2 separate regions of the Homo sapiens genome follow, and region 1 is linked to region 2. Evidence: fine-mapped expression QTL. A gene starts in region 2. The other region holds a variant in brackets. All regions are shown on one strand. Distances are from middle to middle. Region 1 overlaps AKAP12 (A-kinase anchoring protein 12). Region 2 holds the start of AKAP12 (A-kinase anchoring protein 12).

Region 1 (8,000 bases), 120 kb before region 2:
GTCTTTCTCTTGCAGTTACCGATATTAATGCTTTACGGTACATTTGCTTCCTCGTTTATAAAGCACTTTCACAATGGGAAAATCTTGTGAAGAACAGTCTTTAGTTACACATTCTGAAATGAGGAATGGCTGAGACAGGGCAGGTGAACTCTTTCTCAGTCACCAAGCTGAAGTTTGCACATGAGCTATTAAGAAGCGATGCAAGCATCTTGTAGATTGTCTTCTATGTGTTTCTAAGGACACAGAGGAGGCAAAAGAGTTGTCTCTCTGTCCCGAATTGTTTGTGAGACCCATATACTGAGCTGCCAACTCCACTGACTCTTGGATATCTCTTAGGTTTCTCAAATTGCCTCCACGCTCATGTCAGTATGTGCCTCCACATCCAGGTTGGCAATCTAGAAACTTCATTCTTCACCCCACAGTTCCCACAGAAGATAATCAGGTACCGTGCCCTGTCGATCTGCCTCCTAACAGCTCTTGATCTCACCCACGGATCTCCAGCCAAACTGCACCTACTTTAATATAGGCCATTATCAGTTCTTGTCTGGATTATTCTCTTTTTTTAAACTTTTATTAATTGTATTTTTTATTTTTTTTTAAGAGACAGGAGTCTCCCTGTGTTGGTTAGGCTGATCTTGAACTCCTAGGCTCAAGCGATCCTCCCACCTCAGCCTCCTACCTGGGACTACAGCTGCATCCCACCACACCCAGCTTGCCTGGATTATTCTAACAGCATGTAAACTGACCTCCTCTCAACCTCCAGGCCTCAATTCTCTGCAAGATAGATGCCACTGACATTTTAGGTAGAAACATCTGTCTTATGCAGGGTTTTTCTGTGCCATGCAGGATGTCAAACATCTGTGGCCGTAACTCATTACATACCGTAACATCCTAGCCGTTGTGGTAACCAGACACGTGGCAGCACAAACCAGGGTGGAGAGTGGGACCTTTCACTAGCCCAACACTGCGGATCACTACGGTAAGAGGATTGCATCTTTTCCCTGCCAAACTATTTCAATGACTTTGTAGGATAAATCTCATATCTTGAAATGGCCCCCTGGCCATCTCTGCAGTATTATTTCTATAGTCTTTAAGAAGGACCCTAGTTATGTTTAGATTTCAGATTCTAGAGGCAATTCCATCTACTTTTCCAAGAATTAGGTAAGCCCCTGAGGGTCACAGGGATAAGTAGAATCAAGCACAATGTGGTTTTAAAATTAGCCTTATTTAGAGTATTGCCTCTTTGTTCATTAATTATACCTAGTTATTTGAGATTATTAAAACAAATAAAAAAACACAGGGTTAAGACTAAGCACTGGGCTTTAGTACTCAATATTCTTTTGTGGGCACATTAGACTTAGGTCCTCATTTCATCATTTAGGTATTGTTATTCTACCTCTGGTCTCTAAACATAGGTGTTATACTCAGTGAAGCCTCTCTTGAAGGTTACATGTTAAACTACCCTTCTCCTGTTAAAACTTTTAATGTCGACAGGTGATAGAAGAAGAATATGCACAGTTGCAAGAAGACCTCACTCATAACTGTAGAATACTACAGTAAAGATGTCTCACACCTGTAATCCCAACACTTTGGGAGCCTAAGGCAGGAGGATGGCTAGAGTCCAGGAGTTGGAGACCACTAGCCTAAGCAACATAGGGAGACCCCGTCTTTACAAAATATAAAAAATTATCTGGGCATGGTGGGGCACACCTGTGGGTGTTGTAGAGGCTGAGGTGGGAGGATTGCTTGAGCCAAGGAGGTTGAGGCTGCAGTGAGCCACGATTGCATGACTGCACTCCAGCCTGGGTGATAGAGTGAGACCCTTTCTCAAATAAATAAATCATGATGATTTTCACCACCATGCTATCTTCAGATCCTGGTTAGCTTAGCCCAACCTGTGTTATCACTTCAAAGTCTCAGCTTTCTCATATTAAAAGAAGGGCTCAGCTTGTTTTCCTAATTCCAATTATATAGGTTGGAGACAATAAGCAATCTGTTAGGAGAAGCTCGCATTTGTATCAAAGTTATACCAGGTTGTCTGTGACCAGCAGATCCATTTCCAGAATCTCATTAGAAATGAATAGTCGGCCAGGCACGGTGGCTCACGCCTGTAATCCCAGCACTCTGGGAGGCCAAGGCGGGTGGATCACAAGGTCAGGAGATCAAGATCATCCTGGCTAACACGGTGAAACCCCGTCTCTACTAAAAATAAAAAAATTAGCCAGGCATGGTGGCAGGCGCCTGTAGTCCCAGCTACTCGGGAGGCTGAGGCAGGAGAATGGCATGAACCCGGTAGGCGGAGGTTGCAGTGAGCCGAGATCGCACCACTGCACTCCAGCCTGGGTGACAGAGTAAGACTCCGTCTTGAAAAAAAAAAAAAAAGAAATGAATAGTCATGGCCGGGCACAGTGGCTCATGCCTCTAATTCCAGCACTTTGGGAGGCTGTGGCGGGTGATCAGTTGATGCCAGTTCAAGACTAGCTTGGCTAACATGGAAAAACTCCGTCTCTACTAAAAATGCAAAAATTAGCTGGGCATAGTGGTGGGCACCTACAGTCCCAGCTACTCAGGAGGCTGAGGCATGAGAATTGCTTGAACCTGGGAGGCGGAGGTTGCAGTGAGCCTCAATTGCACTACTGCACTCTAGCCTGGGTGATGGAGTGAGACTCTGTCTCAAAAAAAAAAGAGAAAAAGAAAAAGAAAAAAATGGTCATGTTGTTTAACTGAAGTCACAAGTCTCTGATTCCAGAGAGCGTCCTGCCCCATGCCCCATGCCCGGAAGGAAGGAATGCGTGCTCAGAGAGACCAAGAAGAATCTAGACAGACAGGCCTTGCTGTGTTTCCCCACTCAGTCTGTTAGCATTAGATCATATCCCTTTTGTCCAGTCATATTTCTCCACGTCCATACTTTGTTGAACCTATATTAAAATGGACAATTTCCCCTGCATTTTTGGGTCTTCATTCTGAAGGCTCCCAGGTACACATTAATAAAATTTGTATGACTTTCATTTAAAAAAGAATAGGGCCAGGTGTGGTGGCGCATGCCTGTTATCTGAGCACTCTGGGAGGCTGAGGTGGGTGGATTGCTTGAGTCCAGGATTTTGAGACCAGCCCAAGCAACATACCAAAACCCCATCTCTATTAAACATGGATGTATATAATTCTCTATTCTTGACTAGGATTTCAAAACAAAAAAAAATAGAATACACTTTGGGGGGCCGAGACAGAATTGTTTTAGCCCAGGAGTTTGAGACCAGCCTGGGCAACATGGCAAGACCCCATCTCATGGTGGCACATGCCTGTAGTCCCAGCTACTCAGGAGATGGGAGGATCCCTTGAGTCCAGGGGTTCAAGGTTACACTGAGCTCTGATGGCATCACTGCCTTCCGGCCTGTGTGACAGAGCCAGACCCCATCTCTACAAAATATGAAATCAAAATACAAATAAATGTTTAAAAGAAATAGTCATGTAGATTTGAATTTATGTGACACTGATTTTGTGTTCCGGTTCCGAGCTCTGCTACTATCTGGGAATCCTTGGACTGCGTCCATTTCCTTTCTTACAGGGTTGGAGAAAGAGGTTCTAACTCTGGTTCTGGTTATTGGTTGGCATTTCAGAGAAGGTTTGTGTGACTATCCAAAAACTGTACATAAAACTTTATATTGGGGAGTCCGAGGTCAGCTAGAAGCTTAATGAGATTCTAATTAAAGGAGCCCAGGACCCAAAAAGGTTATGATCATGAATAGAGATCTTTGTGGACTCACGCCTATCCTAGATACATTCATTCCAAACTCTCATGATGCTCTATGAACAAAGGGTGCTAAGTAGTTAAAAGCAGAGCTTAAATGTATGACGAATATCACAACAGACAAGAGAAAAGCAATGGAAACTGAATCACAGTGAAATTACAGAAAGAAAATCCATGGCATTTAATTAGATTGCATTTTATTTAGATAAATGAAAATTTGCCCCAAACAGAACTAGGAATCAAATATTGTCTT[C/G]GACTAGAGGTAATTGCTAAGCTGGAAGCTTATATTGAAAACTAAAATTTCCAGCCCTTGACTATCTGTAGTTCCAAACATCAAAGGAAAATATTGGAACAATTTATCTATGTACAGAGAGAGGCAACTCATGGGTACCATAAGCAAAATAACCTGAGGGGGAACATTTGATATTACAAGAAGTGGTGAGAGTTTACAAGTCTTGCATTGCTTTCTATTGTACATGGCTCTGTAGTAATGCCAAAAATAACAAAATGTAGGCACTTGCTCTGACTTCTGCAGTTTACATTAGATTATTATGTACTTCATAAATTAACAGCAGCTTTAGAATTATAAAACAGTATTATATTTCATGCTACTGTTGGTGTTCTTCTTGTTAAAATAATGTTCTCAACGGACATAGATACAGAGCTTGTACAGAAGTAACTCTGGGCACATCCAGATAGTACAAAAAGCAGTCATAAAGCAGCTACTCATGGAATCGCAACTGTGATGGCCAGCGAGCACCTGGCCACAGGTGGTAGGAAAAGACAAACGCGGGTGGAATTTAAACAAAAACGTCAATTTCCCACAAACTACACAAATCTTTAATCTGTTCAAAACAGCACAGAATGTCTTCCTGCCATAGAGAGGAAGTCAATATGAACTTGTTATAAATTGCTGTCATTTCCAAAACTCTTTAGTTGATGTTCAGAACTAGAAACCAGCACTTGGATTTCAATCTCAGTTGGCCAAAAAAAAAAAAAAAAAAAAATTATATATATATATCAGAGGTTTTTTGAATTTGGGGATTTTAATAATGATGCATGGGTAGCTATTATATATATTTGAGAATAACTCCTAAAAGATGACTTCCAACTACAAACAAGACTATATATACACTGCTATCATGAGGTGTTTTACTAATATGGCCAATTATGTATGAAGTTAGATTTGTTAGCAAAAAGAAACTACTTTCAGTTTTAAAAGCAAACTTTCTTTCCATTAAAACTAGGCTTTCCAGCTAATCAGCAGTCAAAATTTAAATTTTCAAACTGGAGTACCAAGTTTGAGTAAAATCTGGAAAGCTATATGCCAGGCCAGTTCTGTGTGTCAAGAGTAGATAAGTGACACTATTCTTCGTGTGACAATTGTCTGACAAAACCCTTAATGTAGGCTGAGGCAGGAGAATCGCTGGAATCCGGGAGGTGGAGGTTGCGGTGAGCTGAGATCGTGCCATTGCACTCCAGCCTGGGCAACAAGAGCGAAACTCTGTCTCAAAAACAAACAAACAAACAAACAAAAAAACAAACCCTCAATGTATTAGCATGACTCATCATTTTGACATTTAAAAAATTTTCCAAGATTATTTCAGGAAAGGCATTTTTACTATTAATTAAGCTTTCTTAAAATTTCTTTCTAGAGACATTTGTTATTGTTTGAAACCAAAAATATTAACACAAAAAAATTGACATTTTCAGGAATTACCAGATGGTACAATTGTAGCAAGAACGTCAATCTGAAAAGCTACTGGTTTATTTCAGGAAAGCTATCTCGGCCATGGCTTCCTCTGAACACACAAACCAGTGACAAGGGGTTTCATGTAATGACTACATCAGAAAGTTCTAGCTTATCAATCATTATCTTTAGAATTCTAATGTGGTACACATATGTCCCAGGCTTCCTGGTATCTAATAAAACCAGCAAATCTAAGTGAAGCAAATATTTTATTTAAATCAGTCGTCAAATCACAACTTATCCAAATGAATGTGTTGCAACATTGTTCTTAAAAGAATGGCACAAATATGGCACAAACACAATCCAGTATCTATCAAAATACCATTTGTAAAGAACCTGACTTATTTCATGCCATGTGTGAATGCAGTCCAGCATATAAGAGTAGAATCAAAAACTTACAACAATTCTTTTCTTCATAACATATAAAACATATTCACTACTTTGCCTCAGGATTAAGCACACTTATCGGTCCAAACAACCATAACAAGTAGGAAAAAGGATGTAAAGTTAATTTGCTACCAGAATATAACTTCTTTCTAACCTCCACTGGGTTAGAAAGAAAAATTTCCCAATGACAATAGAACATTCTGTATGTTTCAAAATGCTTTTTAGTTTTAGCACACTCCGTGTAATAGGAAAGTGACCAATTTCAGAGTACCACTAAATATGGACCTCAATCATTAGTGAATTTTAAAGAATTGTACCTTGATCAGGAATGTTACATCTAGGAGGCTCTGTTTTTCGTGGGTTATATAACTGAGGCTTAAAGCTCCCCAAGCCTGCACTATGGCACATGCCCCATCATATACTGTGTGATACAAAAAGCATGTAGTATCCTGCACATTTCCTTAAACATTAAGAAAAAAATATACAATAGATACAGGAGGACTACTTAAAACATACATATAAATATGTAAAGAATGATACTCCAGTTTCAGAAGCAGAACTAGGTATTGCCAACTCCAGTTCCAGGTTAAGAATTTAGGACCTTAAATCAGAATTTATATGGTTATCAAGGGAAAATTGTAGGTTGGTCTTGGAAAGAGGAAATGTTAAATGGCTCTAGCTCCTGATGAAGCCTCAGGATTGTCAGGGGCTCTCTAGAAATGAGATCAGTTGATGTGCCTGCTCTCCAATTCTCAAAGTTCTGAAATACTGGTCTTCAGTCTCAGCAGCAGCATTCATTTTCTTCTACTACTTGTCTTCACATTCTGGTCTTCCAAACAGACAATGAGTTTAACTGTAGGAGGAGGAAGAATCAGCGTAAATAAAATCTCCTTTTTCTCTCTCATTTATTAACAACAGGATAGTTGTCAAAGTGACCTAATAATACCATAGTTTAACTCCATTAAAAAAACAAAGATGGGGCCGGGCGCGGTGCCTCATGCCTGTAATCCCAGCACTTTGTGAAGCTGAGGAGGGCAGATCATGAGGTAAAGAGATCGAGACCATCCTGGCCAACATGTTGAAACCCTGTCTCCACTAAAAATACAAAAATAAGCTGGGCATGGTGGCATGCACCTATAGTCCCTGCTATTCGGGAGGCTGAGGCAGGAGAATCGCTTGAACCCAGGAGGTGGAGGTTGCAGTAAGCTGAGATTGTGCCACTGCACTCCAGCCTGGCGACAGAGCGAGATTCTGTCTCAAAAACAAACAAACAAACAAAAAACAAAGATAGGGCTGGGTGCGGTGGCTCATGCCTGTAATCCCAGCACTTTAGGAGGCCGAGGCGGGCAGATCACTTGAGGTCAGGAGTTCAAGACCATCCTGGGGGAAACTCCGTCTCTACTAAAAATACAAAACTAAGCTGGGCATGGTGGTGTGTTATCTGTAATCCCAGCTACTCAGGAGGCTGAGGCAGGAGGATCGCTTGAACCTGGGAGACTGAGGTTGCAGTGAGCTGAGATTGCGCCACTGCACTCCAGTCGGGGTGACAGAGTGAGACTCTGTCTCAAAAACAAAACAAAACAAAAGAAAACGAAGATGGGTTGAGCACAGTGGCTCACGACTGTAATCCTAGCACTTTGGGAGGGTGAGGCAGGAGGATTTCTTGAGGCCAGGAGTTTGAGACCAGCCTGGGCAACATAGCAAGACCCCTGTCTGCAAAAAAATTTAACAATTAGCTCGGAGTAATGACATGTGCCTGTGGTCCCAGCAGCTATTCAGGAGACAGAGGCAGAGGCAGGCGATTTGCTTTAGCCCAGGAAGTCAAGGTTGCAGCAATCCATGATTGCACCACGGCATTCCAGCCTGGGTGACACAGCAAGGCTCTCTCAAAAAACAAAACAAAGATAGGGCTGGGCGTGGTGGCTCACACCTGTAATCCCAGCACTTTGGGAGGCCAAGGCGGGCGGATCACGAGGTCAGGAGATCGAGACCTCCTGGCTAACACGGTGAAAACCCATCTCTACTAAAAATACAAAAAATTAGCTGGGTATGGTGGCGGGCACCTGTAGTCCCAGCTACTCGGGAGGCTGAGGCAGGAGAATGGCGTGAACCTGG
Region 2 (16,820 bases):
AGGTGTAGGGGTGTCTTTGAAAAGCTCTCTAGGTGATTCAATAGCACCACCAGGTTTGGGAATTAGGAAAAATTTAATCCTTCAATACTCCCAGTTTGCAGTATTTGCATATAACAAATAGATGGTCAGCCAATAAACTGCAGTAATCTCTCCTTCTTAAATTTTGGTTTATTTCGTTTTGAAATCAAACATGAAACTGACATGCTACTACAACTGGGATTAAGATTAGGCAGAGAGAAACTACAGGGTTTCCCCCATTTAAAAAACATCACAGAGAAATCACAGGGAAGACAAAAAGCTTTGAACCTGAAATGAATACTTGTATTAAGAGGTGCCTAATGGTGTCCCGGTGTCCCAGATGGTTTCCTGTGCTTTGAACACCTACATTTTTCTCAGAAAATCCATGTATACCATCCAGTTAACAGAGCCAGGCTGTTTGCCGTGAGAACGGGAGAGGATCCCGGGTAAGCCTTCACTCTATTGTTTTCCCAAGAGGTGGATTTCTGCTGCTTCCAATCCCTGATCTCAACATTTCACGGATCATGACCACAAAGTAATTTCTGGCAACTAAATGATTTTAGATTGTTCCAAGAGAAGAAATTTTAAAAGTGATAGCTAAAGAAGTAGGTCATCCTCCAAGCAAATAAATTTAAAGATGGTTCATTAATTTGGAAAGGAAAAGGAGCAAAGGAGAGTAAGACTGCTCTACCTCAGCTGCGTTTTTATTCTTGAACTTGCTTTTTTCCAATTTGATTAATTTCTGGGGAAAAAGTTTTTTTGTTTTTTTGTTTTGTTTTGTTTTTTTAAATAGAGATAGGGTCTTGCTCTGCCACCCAGGCTGTAGTGCAGTAGCATGATCATAGCTCACTGCAGCCTCATACTCCTGGGTGGAAGCAATCCTCTCACCTCAGCCTTCCAAGTAGCTAGGACTACAGGTACACGTCACCGCACCCAGCTAAATTTTTTATTTTTTGTAGAGATGGGGTCTTGCTATGTTGCCCAGGCCACTCTTGAACTTTCTCTCAAGTGATCCTCCCTTCTTGGCCTCTCAAAGTGCTGAGATTACAGGTGTGAGCCCCCACACCTGGCTAGAAAAAAAAATCTTTAAAAATTAATTGGGCAGGGCATGGGGGCTCACACCTGTAATCTCAGCACTTTGGGAGGCAGAGGTGGGAGGATCACTTCAGTCCAGGAGGTCCAGACCAGCCTGGGCAACACAGTGAGACCTTGTCTCTACCAAAAATAAACAAAATTAGCCAGGCATGGTGGTGTGCACTTGTAGTCCCAGCTACCTGGTGGTGTGTGCCTGTAGTCCCAGCTACTCAGGAGGCTGAAGTAGGAGGGTCATTTGAGCCCAGGAGGTCGAGGCTGCAGTAAACCAAGATTGCACCACTGCATTCCACACTGGGCAACAGAATGAGAGCCTATCTCAAAAACAATAAATAAATAAAATTAAAGTTAAATGAAAATGAAAATGAAAATTAATTAACAGTGAAACAAACCATAGCCTTTCATGCTCTGACAGCCAGACCAGTGCATGATCAGATGGCAAGCACATGGCAGAGAAACATGATGAGGCATTCAACTTCACAGTTAAAAATGCACCAAGGAAACTGAGGTACCATTCTTCACCTAGCACATTGGCAAGTATTGGAAAATCTGATACCCATGAAGGCAAAGCATGGGAAAACGAGTGCTGATCTCCACGGTGGAACTGCAAAGTGGTAGAACCTCTTTGGAAAGTCAATTTAGGAAGGGTTAAATTTTTTGTTTTTGTTTTTGTTTTTGTTTTTGAGACGGAGTCTTGCACTGTCACCCAGGCTGGAATGCAGTGGTGAGATCTCAGCTCACTGCAACCTCCCCCTCCCAGGTTCAAGAGATTCTCCTGCCTCAGCTTCCCAAGTAGCTGGGATTACAGGCACCTGCCACCACACCCAGCTAATTTTTTGTGTTTTTAGTAGAGACGAGGTTTCGCCATGTTGGCCAGGCTGGTCTCGAACTCCTGACCTTGTGATTCACCTGCCTCGGCCTCCCAAAGTGCTGGGATTACAGGCGTGAGCCACCGCACCTTGCCGGGTTAAATTTTTAAATGCATATAAAGCTTGCAATTCAGCAATTACACTTATGGACGAGGACAATCTAAATATAAACCCAAGGAATTGGTTAAATCGTTACAGGGCTTCAACCCACAAAAGGGAAATTTATGCACCCAAATTAATAAGAATGGGGGCAGTTATTTATGTCCTGATATGAAAAGACATCCAAAACCTAAATCTATATGTGATATGATCTTTTTCTTAAATGGAAAAGACTGTGCCATTTTTATCTACTTTCATGTGCATGAAGTTTTCGAAAGAATATGTAAGAAGCCATCATATTGGCTTCAAATTTTACTTAAATTTGTGAGTAATTTACCCTACTTATAAATTTAAGTTCTCAATCATTAATTTTTTTAAAAAATAAACATTAAATGAATATTGCTATGCAATGACTTTAAATAAAAATCATTAATAAGGGTAAACACATGCTTTTGATTTTTTTTTTTTTTTTTTTTGAGACGGAGTCTCTCTCTGTCGCCCAGGCTGGACTGCAGTGGTGACTGCAGTGGTGCCATCTCGGCTCCCTGCAAGCTCCACCTCCCGGGTTCACGCCATTCTCCTGCCTTAGCCGGGTGGATCACGAGGTCAGGAGTTTGAGACCAGCCTGGCCAACATGGTGAAACCCCATCTCTACTAAAAATACAGAAACTTAGCTGGGCGTGGTGGTGGGTGCCTGTAATCCCAGCGACTCGGAAAGCTGAGGCAGGAGAATCGCTTGAACCTGGGAGGCAAAGGTTGCAGTGAGCCAAAAAAAAGAATTCGGTTCAAGGAAATTTAGTTGCTTTTTTTTTTTTCAAGAGATAAACGTACTGGCTTAATTTTTCTTAGAATGCTTAGTGCTATAAATTCTAATTTCTAACTTCGCATGAATGGCTACTGCATATAGAATTATAGAGATGGGGGATGATGCCATTTAGTTTGAGTTTTCCTGCACTGGTGTTCTTTAAGCACTGAATATGTATTAAAACTAACTAAGACAAAGGAAAATAAATAATTTATTAGCATTTTTAAAAACAAAACATTTTATTTCCATTTTGTTAATTATCTTACAAGATCCAAACTAGAATAATCTTATAATGTCAGCTTAAAGCTGTAAAGGCATAGAAATTAGTCAACCCAAAGAGGATGCACATTTCAAGGCCTTTTCTTCATAGAAGGAAATATTTCAAGAGAAAATCTCCACTTATCTTATTCATCCACTAGCCTATAAGCTGTAATGGATTTAAAGGAAGCCCTGCGATTCCTGCAGTCTATCGGTACCCAAAAGAATCATCCCCACATCCATATCTCCAATTTTTGGTCTCTGTTCTGATCAGAAATTAGCAGCTCTTATAATCTGGTAAAAATCCACAGGAATACAAGTAGCCACACACAGAGAAACATCCCTCTATTAAGAAACATATAATTCTTGCCTTAAATTCTGGCCCATTTTTGTAACACTGGTGATGTAGTCACTTTGAGGCCATCTTCGTTCTCCATTTCCATTGCTAAACAAGTGGCAAATAGGAGGAAGCTTATGGGAGGAATTATGAAATGCAGCTGGCCGCCTCAATTGTCTGGTTTTGTTTGTTTGTTTGTTTGTTTCTTTGAGACAGAGTCTCGCTCTGTTGCCCAGATTGGAGTGCAGTGGCGCCAACTCGGCTCATTGCAAACTCCGCTTCCCGAGTTCACGCCATTCTCCTGTCCCAGCCTCCCGAGTGGCTGGGACTACAGGCGCCCGCCACCACGCCTGGCTAATTTTTTGTATTTTTAGTAGAGATGGGGTTTCACCGTGTTAGCCAGGATGGTCTGGATCTCCTGACTTTGTGATCTGCCTGCCTCAGCCTCCCAAAGTGCTGGGATTACAGGCGTGAGCCACCGCACCCGGCCAATTGTCTGTTTTAATGCACGAGGGTCAAACACATCCTTAAATTTACCAGTCAGACAACGGACTCTTCTATTCGAGTACATCTTTATGTTTTGGTGATTCAAGGCTCTTGTAATCAAATGGAGCTAACAAGAGCCCCCATCTCCCCACCTGCCAGAGACAATGGCCTCACCCTGTTGCAACAGACCATTGTTCAATGTCCAGCATTGAAATCATTCATCAGGCAATACATATAGAAAGGCTAATTAATTGATTGTCCAGACTTAGTCTGGAGCCTGGCTCCAGAAATCAAGATTAGCCAGAGACATGGAAGTCAGTTTGTCACTGGTCACCCCACCCTCTGTTGCCACCTGAATATGTTGCCACCTTAATATTTTTTTAAGACAAATTTTTAAAAACAGACAATTAAGGAATAATGTGAAGTGTGAGGCTTTACTTACCACCAGCATTCAGGTCATCTAATCTTCCCGCACCCTGCAGTTGTGAAACGGCCATGTCTCAAAATTAAACCCTGGCAGATAACAGACCAAGCCATTCCCCCTGCCCCCGCCTGGATCTTACATATAAAGACTGTAAAAGATTTCCAGTCTATCTCTGGATCTAACGGAAAAAATAAAGATTACAAAAGATTGAATAGAAGATAAAGACTCCTTCCATTTTACAGAAATGAACCATAGATAAAACCAAGACTTCTGCTTTAGTGCATCTAAACGTTAAGCCTGAGTAATCAAAAGCTTGTTTAACTCTCCATTTGACCTAATACAAGTGATAATTCAACCAGTGTAATGTCTGTTCAGATAAGGGCACTTAGTGAATAACTGGTAACTAAAACTAGCAGAAAAAAAGGAAAGTAAATCCAATTGCTAAATAGATAGCATGCATGTGATATAAATGTCAGCTATTAGATAGAAAAAGATCTGCCTACAACCTTTAATTAATGACCACATTCTATCCAAGGAGGGAAAAATGATGTATTAGCCTAAACCTCCCCAACCGTCCACAGACACATCAAGGAAGTTCAAGATGTAATCCTAAGTAACTCAGGGTATGAAATGGACTCATTTGAGCCATATGCACTTCATATATTTGTCTATTTAAGATAAAACGCAATTTGAAATTGCAATGCTAACAAGTCACTCTATATCTAGAGAAACAGAATCCAAAGCCCCCAAATCTGAAGTTTTTGGTCAAACTATTCACTTGATCTATTAATAACCGAACAGACTGACTTGCCTTAGTCACTATCATAATCAGTCTCACGTGATAATGAAATGATCAAGGGTTAAATTGTAGTAAAATCAGATAGGTCAAGGTATTCTCCAACTTGATATTTTCCAATCAAAACCAAGGAGCCAATATCACCCCTTCCTCTTTCCACAAGTATTCCTGAGAGCTGCCTCTGTGCCAGGCAACATGGCACGCATGAAGGAACACCGTTGGTCGGCACAACCAGGCGTGTTCCCTGCCCCTGCGAAGTATTCACAACAGCAAGAACACTAAACCCACACATGTGAAAACTGCTGGGACGGGTCCATGGTGCCACGGAGCCTAGAGTGGGAGATGGGATTACTTGGAGGTCAGGAATTGGAGCTTAACAAGAAGAGGGGAGGCAAGGGCCATGGTGCTGAGTCATTCTTAATTGGGGAGTCCTTTTGAAAAGACATTTGTGTTCAAAGCCTGAGTGATAAATTTGGCTAGTTCAAATGAAAACTAAATACATTCCAAGGATACATGTAAGTGCACTGATTTGTCTCCAAATTGATAACTGGGCATTATGCCAACAAGTTCAATGATATTCTGGATGTCATTTAAGTGATTTTTTAAAAGGAGGTTGTTTGGTTGCTTCAAGACGGTTGGCAACTTGGAAAGAGGAAAAGGATAAGGTTATGGAAGACGGAAAAAGAGAATGGAAGGAATATTTTTAAATAAACAAATTCAAGTTTACTGGGAAGGGATTAAATCCCATATTTCAGGGTGAACAGTTAGTAAGATCTGAAGGAGTATAAAAGCCGGGGCGGTGGGGGGAATGTCACCCAACTGCAAGTTTTTAGCAATTATACCTTAAAATTATTTTCATCGCTAGACTCTGACCACTGGTTACAGAGCCACTTTGACAGTAGCTGGCATCAAAACATTATGTGCATACAGTAAGTATTAAAATGCGACTTGAATCTCAAAAGGACAGTACATTCCTCAGGCCAGAAGCTTAAGCATCTCTTAGAAAAACCTACATAGCACAGAGACACAGTTAGTACTTAATATCTAGGGACCATGGATTTTACAAGTAGTTATGAATCAAAGACTGGCGGTAAAAACTATATTATTAACAGCAGTCTCTCAGCCCAAAAGAGACTAGGGCAGCTAAGGAGGTCAAGGCAATTAGGTCATGGTTGTAGGTTCCTTTTTTTTTTTTTTTTTGCATATTGTAAACATCTACACCTCCTGCGATAACTCACGTACTCTATCCTCAAATTTGACATACCGCAAATTTAACTATTAAACATGGTTATCCACATCTTTCTACAAGGTATCACAAGGGTACCTTTGTGATACAAGGGTATCACAAAATCAGTAGAGTGAAGCCTTGCTAATGAACACATGCGCTGGAAAATAGATCTAAAATACCACGACCAGAACAAGCCACAGTCTTGGCGGCTGTCCTGGCCCACAAGAAATATTCCAGCCTTGAAGACTGAAGCCGATAAAATGCAGTCGTTTCAGCACTGCGTCCAGGGAAGAGTACCCGGAATGCTCGTTACACTGACCCCATCCTTTGAGAACTTCTAGCCACTCTAGCGTGTGTTTGGCCAACTGAGTCTGCAGGCAAAGCGCTGAGCGAACGCGAGGGCGCTGGCTGGTTTGCGAAACCTGTCATTCCTTCTGGAAACGCAGCGCCTGCCCAGGTTTTTCCTGGCTCTGAGCGAGCTACACCCCAGGCTTTCTCTGCCTCGGGAAGGCGGTGCCTGCTCGGGCCGCTGCCGCAGGAGGACTGGGTACCAAACCCGCTCGCTCCAGGCACCGCTGGCATCCAGGGCGGTACGCGACGGGGAACCCGAGGGTGGCTGGGCTCCCCGGCGGGCTCCACCACGAGTCCTGGCCTCACAGCTGACTTTCCGCATCTCGGAGCTCCGGAGGCCCGGCCCGGGGTCCATTCTCCACGGATCCCCCTCCGCGCAGCTCCTCCGCCTCGGGCTGCATGGCTCCCACCGGAAGAGTGCGCAGAAAGGCTCAGCCGCCGTGGGCAGGGCGCGGGTTTTATTATTGCGCATGGCGCAGTCGCCTCCCCTGGAGACCCGCGACAAAGATGCAAGCCCCCCGCCGCGCTCGCCGCTGCTCTGGCCCCGCCCCGGCGCGAAAGACCCTGAAAAGCCTCCAAAGAGGGGTTCGCACTCCTGAGTTTGCAGATGCGGCTGGATGGGCTGGGAAGTTCTCTCGGCGGAAATCGGAGGGACCCCCCCACCCCCACCCCCACCCCCAAAGACCCGCGCCTCCCGGCGCAGGTGGCCCGGCACGCCCGTACCTTGGTGGCGGGGTCCGAGGCAGCGATGGCGGGGTCCGCGGTGGTGTCTGGCGCCGCCTCGGCCGAGGGGCCGCCGCCGCTGGGCTCGGGCTCAGCCGGCGTGGAGCTCCCCTCGGGCGGCTGCTCCGGGCTGCGCTGCTCGGTGGAGCTCCCGGCGCCCATGGCTCCTCCGCACTTCTCCCGCGCCTAGCCGCCGGGTTACGCCTTCCCCAAGCCGCAGGGACAGGGGCAAGAGCCAAAAGACGCGCGCCCGCGAGGTCCCGAGAGCGCCTTCCTTCGCCGCCAGCCGACTGCGAACGCGCCCAGCCTGCGAATGAAGGAGACGCGCTCGCGGCAAACTCCTTAAAAGAAAAGGAAAAAAAAAAAAAGGCCACCTCTTAGCCTCCGCCCCCCTCCCCCCGGTTTTTCCCTCGCTTCATCACATGAGCACAGCCCCAGACACGCCCTGCAGCAGCATCTGCCCCCAGGCTGCCGGGACCAGAGGCGCTGCGACGCGCCAGCCCAGGTCCAGGCAGCCGCCCACCCGGCCCTCGGGCGCCTCCCGTTTCTAACAGGGCGACTAGAGCTGCGGGGACGACCCAGGGCCTCAGAAGGCAAGAGAGCAGGGGAGCAAAAAGCCTGCCGGGGACACTGGATTCTCTGGGGTTTATTAAATGATGGATCACCCAAGGCAGGAGCTTCTGCTGCAGCCGACTTTCAGCTCGCCCAGGAGCGAGTCCGAGTCCCCATTTGCTTTCCTGCAGATTGTGTTTAACTCCAAACATTTGTTCCAGCCTCCTCCCCATTAGCAGGAGAAAGGCAAGCGCTCCCTGGCTCCTCCTGAGTCCGACCATATTTGGGCACCTCACGTGGCAAGAGCAGGGAACCGAGAGGTTAACGCAGTCAGGCCACGGATGAGGTGGGCCACGCAGGCCCACGCTCTCCTATCCTCCGGAACAAGTGATGTCAGGCGATGCCATCAGCAGTGCTAGCCGCCCCCCTTCCCCCGGGGAACGGGGGGAAATGAGGCTGTTACCGGAAATGTGCCCGTCCTTCTTTGAGGGCCTGTGCTGGAAGTTACCCATCCAGGCCACCTCTGCTCCGCGCGATGCCGACACATGACAGCATAGATCTGTTCCTTTGCCGTCAGCCTTTCTCAAAAGATGAAGACTTTAAATAATACCAGCACAAGTGGCTTGCATCCTTTCATTTCCGACCCTTGAATATAATATGTATTACATGAGCATGGCAGCCAATCAATAAGTATTTGAACTAAATTAAATTTGTAGCTGGATTGCTTGGCGCAAAGCATTAAGGCTTTGGGGCTGAAAGACAAAATTTATTCCAGTTGTAACTAGCAACCGAGTGCCCCAGTTTTCACAAATACTTTGAATCTCCATTAAGAATGAAGAAACCAGCCTGGTTAACATAGCGAGACCTTGTCTCTACAAAAAATAAAAAAATTAGCCAGGCGCAGTGGTGCACCTGTAGTCCTAGCTACTCAGGAGGCTGGGGACGCTGGGGTAGAAGGATGACTTCAGCCCAGGAATTCGAGGCTGCAGTGAGCTATGACTGTGCCTCTGCACTCCATCCTAGTCGACAGAGCAAGATTCTGTCAAAAAAAAAAAAGAAAGAAAGAAGGAAGAAACTTTCGGAATATTCACACCAAATTCCAGATAAATATCTCATACTCAGATTTAGTACAATTTTGTAGAAAGGGTGTAAGCAGTAGTTCAGCACTAGGATGTTTCATGCCTAATGAATTGCATGAATCGAATGGTACCCTGGGAACCATAGGTTAGTTACTCACCATCAAATTTGTTTTCTGAATTAATTTTTTTTCTTTTTCTTTTTTTGAGACAAGGTCTCGCTGTGTTGCCCAGGCTAGTGTTGAACTCCTGAGCTCAAGCGATCCTCCTGCCTTGGCCTCTCAAAGTGCTGGGATTATAGGTGTGAACCACCACACTGGGCCTGTTTTCTGAATTAATTATTTTTATTTAAAGGACTACACGAAGGCCAATTTCTCTGGAGTTTATCTCTTAAGAAACAGTATATTTGCAAAATGCTTAGTTTTAGGAATTTATACACATTTCCCCCATTTTGACTTAAATTTTGACTATTTAGGAAACATTAGAATTCTTACTCTGTACCAGGCACTGTTCAATGCACTTTACATAATAATCTTTACAATAACCCCATGGGATAGATAGTATTATTCTCATTTTACCATTGGCAGGAGGGGGAGGAGTAGGCCCGGAGAAATTAAATTGTGTGCTTCAGGTTTCACAGCCAGGAGTTGGAAGAGCAGGAAGTCCAACTGGCATCTGCTTTCAGGGTCCACGCTTCACCACCGCATGGCACTCCCCTTCCCTTTCAATCAACTGTGTTCTCTCCTCTCAGAGGTGTTACTGAAACGTGGCATTTGGACCTCACTTAGGATTTTAAGAGCAAAAAGCACTGTTAAAACCTACTTGAGGCCAGGTGTGGTGGCTTACACCTGTAATCCCAGCACTTTGGGAGGCCGAGGTGGGTGGATCACCTGAGGACAGTAGTTCAAGACCAGCCTGGGCAACATGGTGAAACCCCGTCTCTACTAAAAGTACAAAAATTAGCCAGGCATGGTGGCGCGTGTCTGTAATCCCAGCTACTCAGGAGGCCAAGACACGAGAACTGCTTGAACCTGGGAGGTGGAGGTTGCAGTGAGCTGAGATCATGCCATTGCACGCCAGCCTGGATGACAGATTAAGACTCCGTCCCAAAAAAAAAAAAAGAAGAAGAAAAAAAAAACTATTTGAGAATGATTAACGTCAGCACATTTGAAAATGTATCAGTAAGTAGCACAAATACTATCAACATTTTCACATTCTGTGAGATTATATTTACTTTGTTCCTGGGAAATTCTTAGCAAAGCTTTTCACATCTACTACCCTTTAAATTTTCAGAAAGGATTGCAGGGTCAAGCCAACAGTGTACAACCTACGTGCTGAGGAAGATATCAGCATCTGCTTAGATTAGCAGTTACTTGCTTTTTGTTTATTTTCCAGGCCATGTAAATGTTCATACTCTTATTTGTAAAAAGTAAAATCATTGCGCTGGGCGCGGTGGCTCACGCCTGTAATCCCAGCACTTTGGGAGGTTGAAGTGGAAGGATTGCTTGACACCAGGGGTTCAAGACCAGCCTGGGCAACACAGTGAAACTCCCATCTCTACAAAAAATAAAAAAAAATTTAGCCAGGAGTGGTGGTGCATGCCTGTAGTCCTAGCTACTTGGGAGGCTGAGGCGGGAGGATCACTTGAGCCCAGGAGTTCCAGACTGCAGCCTGGATGACATAGTGAGACCCTGTCTCAAAAAAAAAAAAGAGAAGAAAAGAAAAGTGGTTGTGTTATTAATGACCTCTAGCGATGAAATAGCCCAACCTTTTGGGTATGCCACTTAGTGCTTCAGAATGCTACAAAGTTTGTTACTTTTTTTACTTTTCTTTCTTTCTTTCTTTTTCTTTCTTTCCTTCTTCTCTGTTCTTTCTTTCTTTTTCTTTCTTTCCTTCTTCTCTTTCTTTCTTTCAATAAATTTCTATCAAGTACCTATTATGTGCCAAGCACAAAGTTACCACTCTAGTTTCCAAGGTTCTAAATCGAGTCACTGAGGTTTTCTTTTCTAGGGCTTCCAAGATGCCTTCGGAATTGCTTGGATTGGCATCAGAGTAGAGGGGAGGCAGGTGTTCTCTATTTTTCACTTCTCAGTCCAAGGCTGTTGGTTCAATGTCTCACCAGCAGCTCAATTTTTCTCCAAATAGCAGGATGCAGGTGTCCCCACACATCCTCTCCCATGGGGCAGTCGTTGGTAGAGCTGTTTCCCTGAGAGGGTTAATTCTCTCATAAACACAGTTTGAGATTTCTCAAAAACAAATACATGTTGCCTGTGTAGCAGGCTGAACCTGTACTTCGCACACATACTTCTCCAGAAAGACGGGTCACATGAGGTTTAACAATAAAATGTAGAGTCATAGTTGGGCACCTTGTGCATGCACCAAAACAGTTTCAAATATAACATTAAAGGAATTCACAAATGTCAAACATTTTACAACTGAGTTCAGACACCCCCTTCAAAGTGCAATAATAATTTTAATTATTAAAACAGTTTAAAATCTACCGTTAACTCTACCCTAAAGATTCATTCTCTAGTTACAAAGCCTTCGCTGAGACTGGCAACTCTTCACCTTCACCTTTGAAACTGCTTCTCTCTTGATTATAACTTCTTTGTTTTCCCTGGATAAAACACCTACTTCTTTCTAAACCAGTTGTTCCCACAGAGATATCCAGTCATCTAAGAACCTAATTCCCACTCTATCTTGTGCTCGTGTGAATTTGTTATTCTTAATACTCCCTTATCACAGAGCTGTTTCAGGCAGAATAGAGAGTACTAGAATGTGCGCATGCATCTCTTAAGATATGATTTTACTTTTTACAAATAAGAATATTAACATTTACATGGCCTGGAAAATAAATAACCAAGAATAATGTTATTACCCTGTTGAGAAGTCTATGGAAGAAACTGTGAGTAAATTATTTGAATTTTACTTTCTATGTGAGGATTTGAGACGGATTATTTTAGAGCATTAATTATAATTTGCTAATTATAAACTAGAAGAATTAACAGTTGTATTCAATTCATGAGTACTTAATAATCTAAAATTCATATGGAAGCTACAGAAAATGTTCAATTTACAGATGAAGTTTAAAGCTCAGCCGCTTGTAGACATACATCACGTATATATATATAGGCAAATGCTATCCTTGTAACTCTTAAGGAATTTATTGCTTTGGAGTTAAGTATAAAGCCAGCTATTTGGATCTCAGTTTCATTTACCAAGGTTTAAGATTGGTGCCTGACTCAAATTCAGGATTACTCTCAAGTAACAAAGGAGGGACTGGAACCAAGATAGAGTAAATGATGTGTCCAATATGGAGAAAGAATTTCTCAGGATGCACTGTTAGAAGATACCAGAAGGTATGTGGAAGGTGTCTACATTCCAGGGTAGATCAAGTGGCTGTAATCCTCACAATTTCAAATCCCTTCTACAAAGGACCCTATAAGTATCCAACATTAAAATATATATTTTTCACATATTAATTAAATAAACTTTCACTGAGTTGAGTGCCAGGCAAAATGCAGAGGACTTTTCAAAGTTGGAAACTTTGCTTCAATAAGTCAACATTGCGCACTCAAAACAAAGCTATTATACAATATATTATACGATGTGAACTGTAGATTTTATGTTCCTCTACCAACTTAAATCCCTTTGTGGCCTGGTGCGGTGGCTCACATCTATAATCCCAGCACTTTGGGAGGCGGAGGCGGGTGGATCACCTGAGGTCAGGAGTTTGAGACCAGCCTGGCCAACATGGTGAAACCCCGTCTCTACTTTAAAAAGATACAAAAATTAGCCAAGCGTGGTGGTGTGCGCCTGTAATCCCAGCTACTTGGGAGGCTGAGGCAGGAGAATTGCTTGAACCTGGGAGATGGAGGTTGCAGTGAGCCAAGATCGCGCCACTGCACTCCAGCCTGGGCGAAAGAGTAAGACTCTGTCTCAAAAAAAATAAAAAAGAAAAAAAGATTAGGTTGTGAATTGATAAACATCTCAACTAGCAATACACAAAGGAAAGGTGGATAACCTGATCTAATGTTTATTTTGTATTCCTTTAAGTTAGCTTGCTAAATGCTTTTAAAATCATAACAATAGCAATAAACCTATATAAACATGCCCAAATGATTTTTGACAAAGGCTCAAAAGTATTCACATGGAGATGTCACTAGTAAATAAATAAATAAATAAATAAATAAATGTATTTTTTAAAAAGACAAAGGTGCAAAAGTAATTCAATGGTGGATGACAGCCTTTCAACAAATGGTGCTGAAGCAATTGGACATTCATGGGCAAAAAGTTAACCTTGACTTATGTCACACATCTGATAAAATAATTAACTACAAATGGATCACAGACTTACACGTAAAACACAAAACTGTAAAACTTTTAGAAAAGACAGGAGAAGGCCAGGCGCGGTGGCTCACGCCTGTAATCCCAGCACTTTGGGAGGCTGAGGTGGGCGGATCACAAGGTCAGGAGATCGAGACCATCCTGGCTAACAAGGTGAAACCCAGTCTCTACTAAAAATACAAAAAATTAGCCGGGCATGGTGGCGGAAGCCTGTAGTCCCAGCTACTCAGGAGGCTGAGGCAGGAGAATGGCGTGAACCCGGGAGGCGGAGCTTGCAGTGAGCCAAGATCTCCCCACTGCACTCCAGCCTGGGAGACAGAGCGAGACTCCGTCTCAAAACAAAAAAAATGAAAAGACAGGAGAAAATCTTAGGAAGCTAAGGCTAAGCAGGATAGTTCTTAGACTTGATACAAAAAGCATGATCCATAAGAGGAAAAACTATAAATTGGACTTCACCAAAATTTAAAACTTTTGTCCTACATAAGACCCAGTTGAAAAGATGAAAAGAAAAGCTACAGATTGGGAGAAAATGTTTGCAAACCACATATCCCACAAGGGACTAGTATCTAAATATAGAAAGAATCCTTAAAACTCAGCAGTAAAAAAACAAGCAAACAAACAAAAAATCAACAAGAACACAGGTAAAATACTTGAAGCAACATTTTATCAAAGAGGATCTACAGGTGGCAAATAAATTGTGTGCAATTTGGGAAAAGCAAATTAAAACCACAGTGAGATATCACTACACAATGATCAGGGTGGCTAAAGTGAAAACAATAGTGACAACGCCAAATGCTGATGAGGCTGCAGAGAAACTGGATCACTCATACACTGCTGGTGGGAATGTAATATAGCATAGTCACTCTGGAAGACAGTTTGGCGGCTTCTTTTTTTTTTTTAAACTGAGTCTCACTCTGTCGTCCAGGCTGGAGTGTGGTGTGCGATCTTGGCTCACTGCAACCGCCACCTCCGAGGTTCAAGCGATTCTTGTGCCTCAGCCTCCCAAGCAGCTGGGATTACAGGCGCAAATCACGCCCAGCTAATTTTTGTATTTTTAGTAGAGACAGGGTTTCACCATGTTGGCCAAGCTGGTCTCGAACACCTAACCTCAAGTGTTCTGCCTGCCTCGGCCTCCCAAAGTGCTGGGATTACAGGTGTGAGCCACTGTGCCTAGCCGGCAGCTTCTTAAAAAACTAAGAAGCCAAAAAACAAAAAAGACAAGAAACATGCAACTACCATACCATATGACCTTACAGTTACACTCCTGGAGCTTCACGTAACAACTTGAACATGCAGTTTATACCAGCTTTACTTGAAATAGCCCCAAAATGGAAAACCTAGATGCCCTTCAACATGTTAGTTAAACAAACTGATCTGCCCATACCATGAAATACTAGTCAACAATAAAAAGAAACAAACTATTAATATATGCAACAACCTGCATGAATCTCCAGAGAATTCTGCTGAAAGAAACCTGTCAATCCCCAAAGGTTACATACAAATGATCCCATTTATATGACAGACTTGAAATGGCAAAATTACAGAAATGAAGAAGTCAGTGGTAGCTAAGGGTTAAAGAAGGGTAGAGGGTGGAGAGAACTGGGTGTTGCTGTAAGAATGCAACAAGAGGGATTTTTATGGGATGGGAATGTTCTGTTCCTTGACTGTATCAATGTCAATATCTTGGTTGTGATATTGCACTCTATTTTTGCAAGATGTTACTATTGGGGAAAACTGGGTGAAGGGTATACGGGATCTCTCTGTATTATTTCTCACAACTGCATGGTAATCCACAATTAACTCAAAATGAAAATTTTAATTTCTGAAAAAGAATGATAAAATATGTATTTTCAGACGGGCTAAAATAAAGGTCCAAGGTACCTGTTTATGTTCAACTTACAACCTCCTTCACTTTCCAGTATATTTGAAATACCCTTTTAATATTAAAATAAGCCAAGATAGAGATCAACACCTTATTAACAGGTTGGTATTTTGTTTTGCTTGTAAGCTTGTTAACTCTGAAACAATCAGACTTGATAAAATACAGAAACAATAGATTTCCTGACTCTGCAGTGCTTTGTACAAAGCTCCTTTCACTCCTTGGCTTCATCTTGCCAGTGAAGAAGTAGTGGACACAACTATAATCTTCCTGGCTGATATCATTTCCAAATGCTCCTGCAAGAGTCTCTCACCTCTCTGTTTCTCTCCTCACCAATGTGTAGCATGGCTCTAGTTTGTAAAATGCATGTTGGAATCTAATGGATCATGAAGATGTGTTCAGAGTCAGATAAAGAAAAAAAGGGCCAGGTGCGGTGGCTCACGCCTGTAATCCCAGCACTTTGGGAGGCTGAGGCGGGTGGATCACCAGAGGTCAGGAGTTCGAGAACAGCCTGACCAACATAGTGAAACCCCATTTCTACTAAAAATACAAAAATTAGCCGAGTGTGGTGGCGCACACCTGTAGTCCCAGCTACTTGGGAGACTGGGGCAGGAGAATCACTTGAAGCCAGGAGGTAGAGGTTGCAGTGAGCTGAGATCGCACCGTGCCACTGCACTCCAGCCTGGGCAACAAGAGCGAGACTCTATCTCAAAAAAAACCCACGCACACACACACAAAAAAAAAAAGAAAGAAAAGAAAATTAAAAAAGGGATGACTTTGGGGTTTTAAATGTTCATTTTCTAGACTAAATTTAATTTGAACAAAATTGAGCATGGTTCATACTTTCTGAATTTAGAAAATCCATATCATTCTTATGGCCTATATTTAATAACAACTATTATATATTCACTTGCCTGTAAACATTTGCAACACTCAAGGTAATGCAGCAAGATGCTCTCCAAGATTAACACATAAGTAAACTTTTTTTCTTTTTAGAGTTGGGGTCTCACTATGTTGCCCAGGCTGGTCTAGAACTCCTGGGCTCAAGCAATCCTCCTGCCTCAGCCTCCTAATATAACTATTCTCTAATTATATTTTTTAAAAGCTTCAATAATGATTAAAGCTGTCAGCACATAGTGTTCACCAACATTAGAAGCTATTTTTTTTCTTTTTCTTTTTTAGAGGCAAGGTCTCACTGGGTCTCACCCAGGCTGGAGTGCAGTAGTGGGATCACATCTCATTGCAGCCTTGACTTCCTAGGCTCAAGTGATTCTCCCACCTCAGCCTCCTGAGTAGATGAGACTGCAGGTGTGCACCATCACACCCAGCTAATTTTTTTCATTTTTGTAGAGACAGGGTCTCCCTATGTTGCCCAGGCTCGTCTCAAACTCCTGGCCTCAAGCAATCCTCCCACCTCAGCCTCTCAAAGCACAGGGATCAGAGGCATAAGCCACCATACCAGGCCAGAAGCTGAATTTTT

Evidence for each region. PIP is the estimated chance that this variant, and not a neighbour inherited with it, causes the effect. A credible set is the group of variants that fine-mapping cannot tell apart.
Region 1: its variant is the best candidate, but not a certain one, in a credible set for the expression of AKAP12 in whole blood (TOPMed, PIP 0.78).

The regions. Positions count from the first base shown.
Region 1 is chr6:151,354,465-151,362,464 of GRCh38, reverse strand. AKAP12 (A-kinase anchoring protein 12) reads right to left here. Exons shown (of 5, transcript NM_005100.4): 5 at 3,906-6,738. Among named protein-coding and RNA genes, the nearest start is that of ZBTB2, 33 kb to the left of the region's middle. RefSeq lists an enhancer at 7,176-7,677. The variant C/G (reference allele first, on the strand shown) is at 4,002.
Region 2 is chr6:151,231,391-151,248,210 of GRCh38, reverse strand. AKAP12 (A-kinase anchoring protein 12) reads right to left here and starts at 8,244. Exons shown (of 5, transcript NM_005100.4): 1 at 8,152-8,244; 2 at 7,487-7,827. The coding sequence starts at 7,648. RefSeq lists enhancers at 7,277-7,854, 7,932-8,441.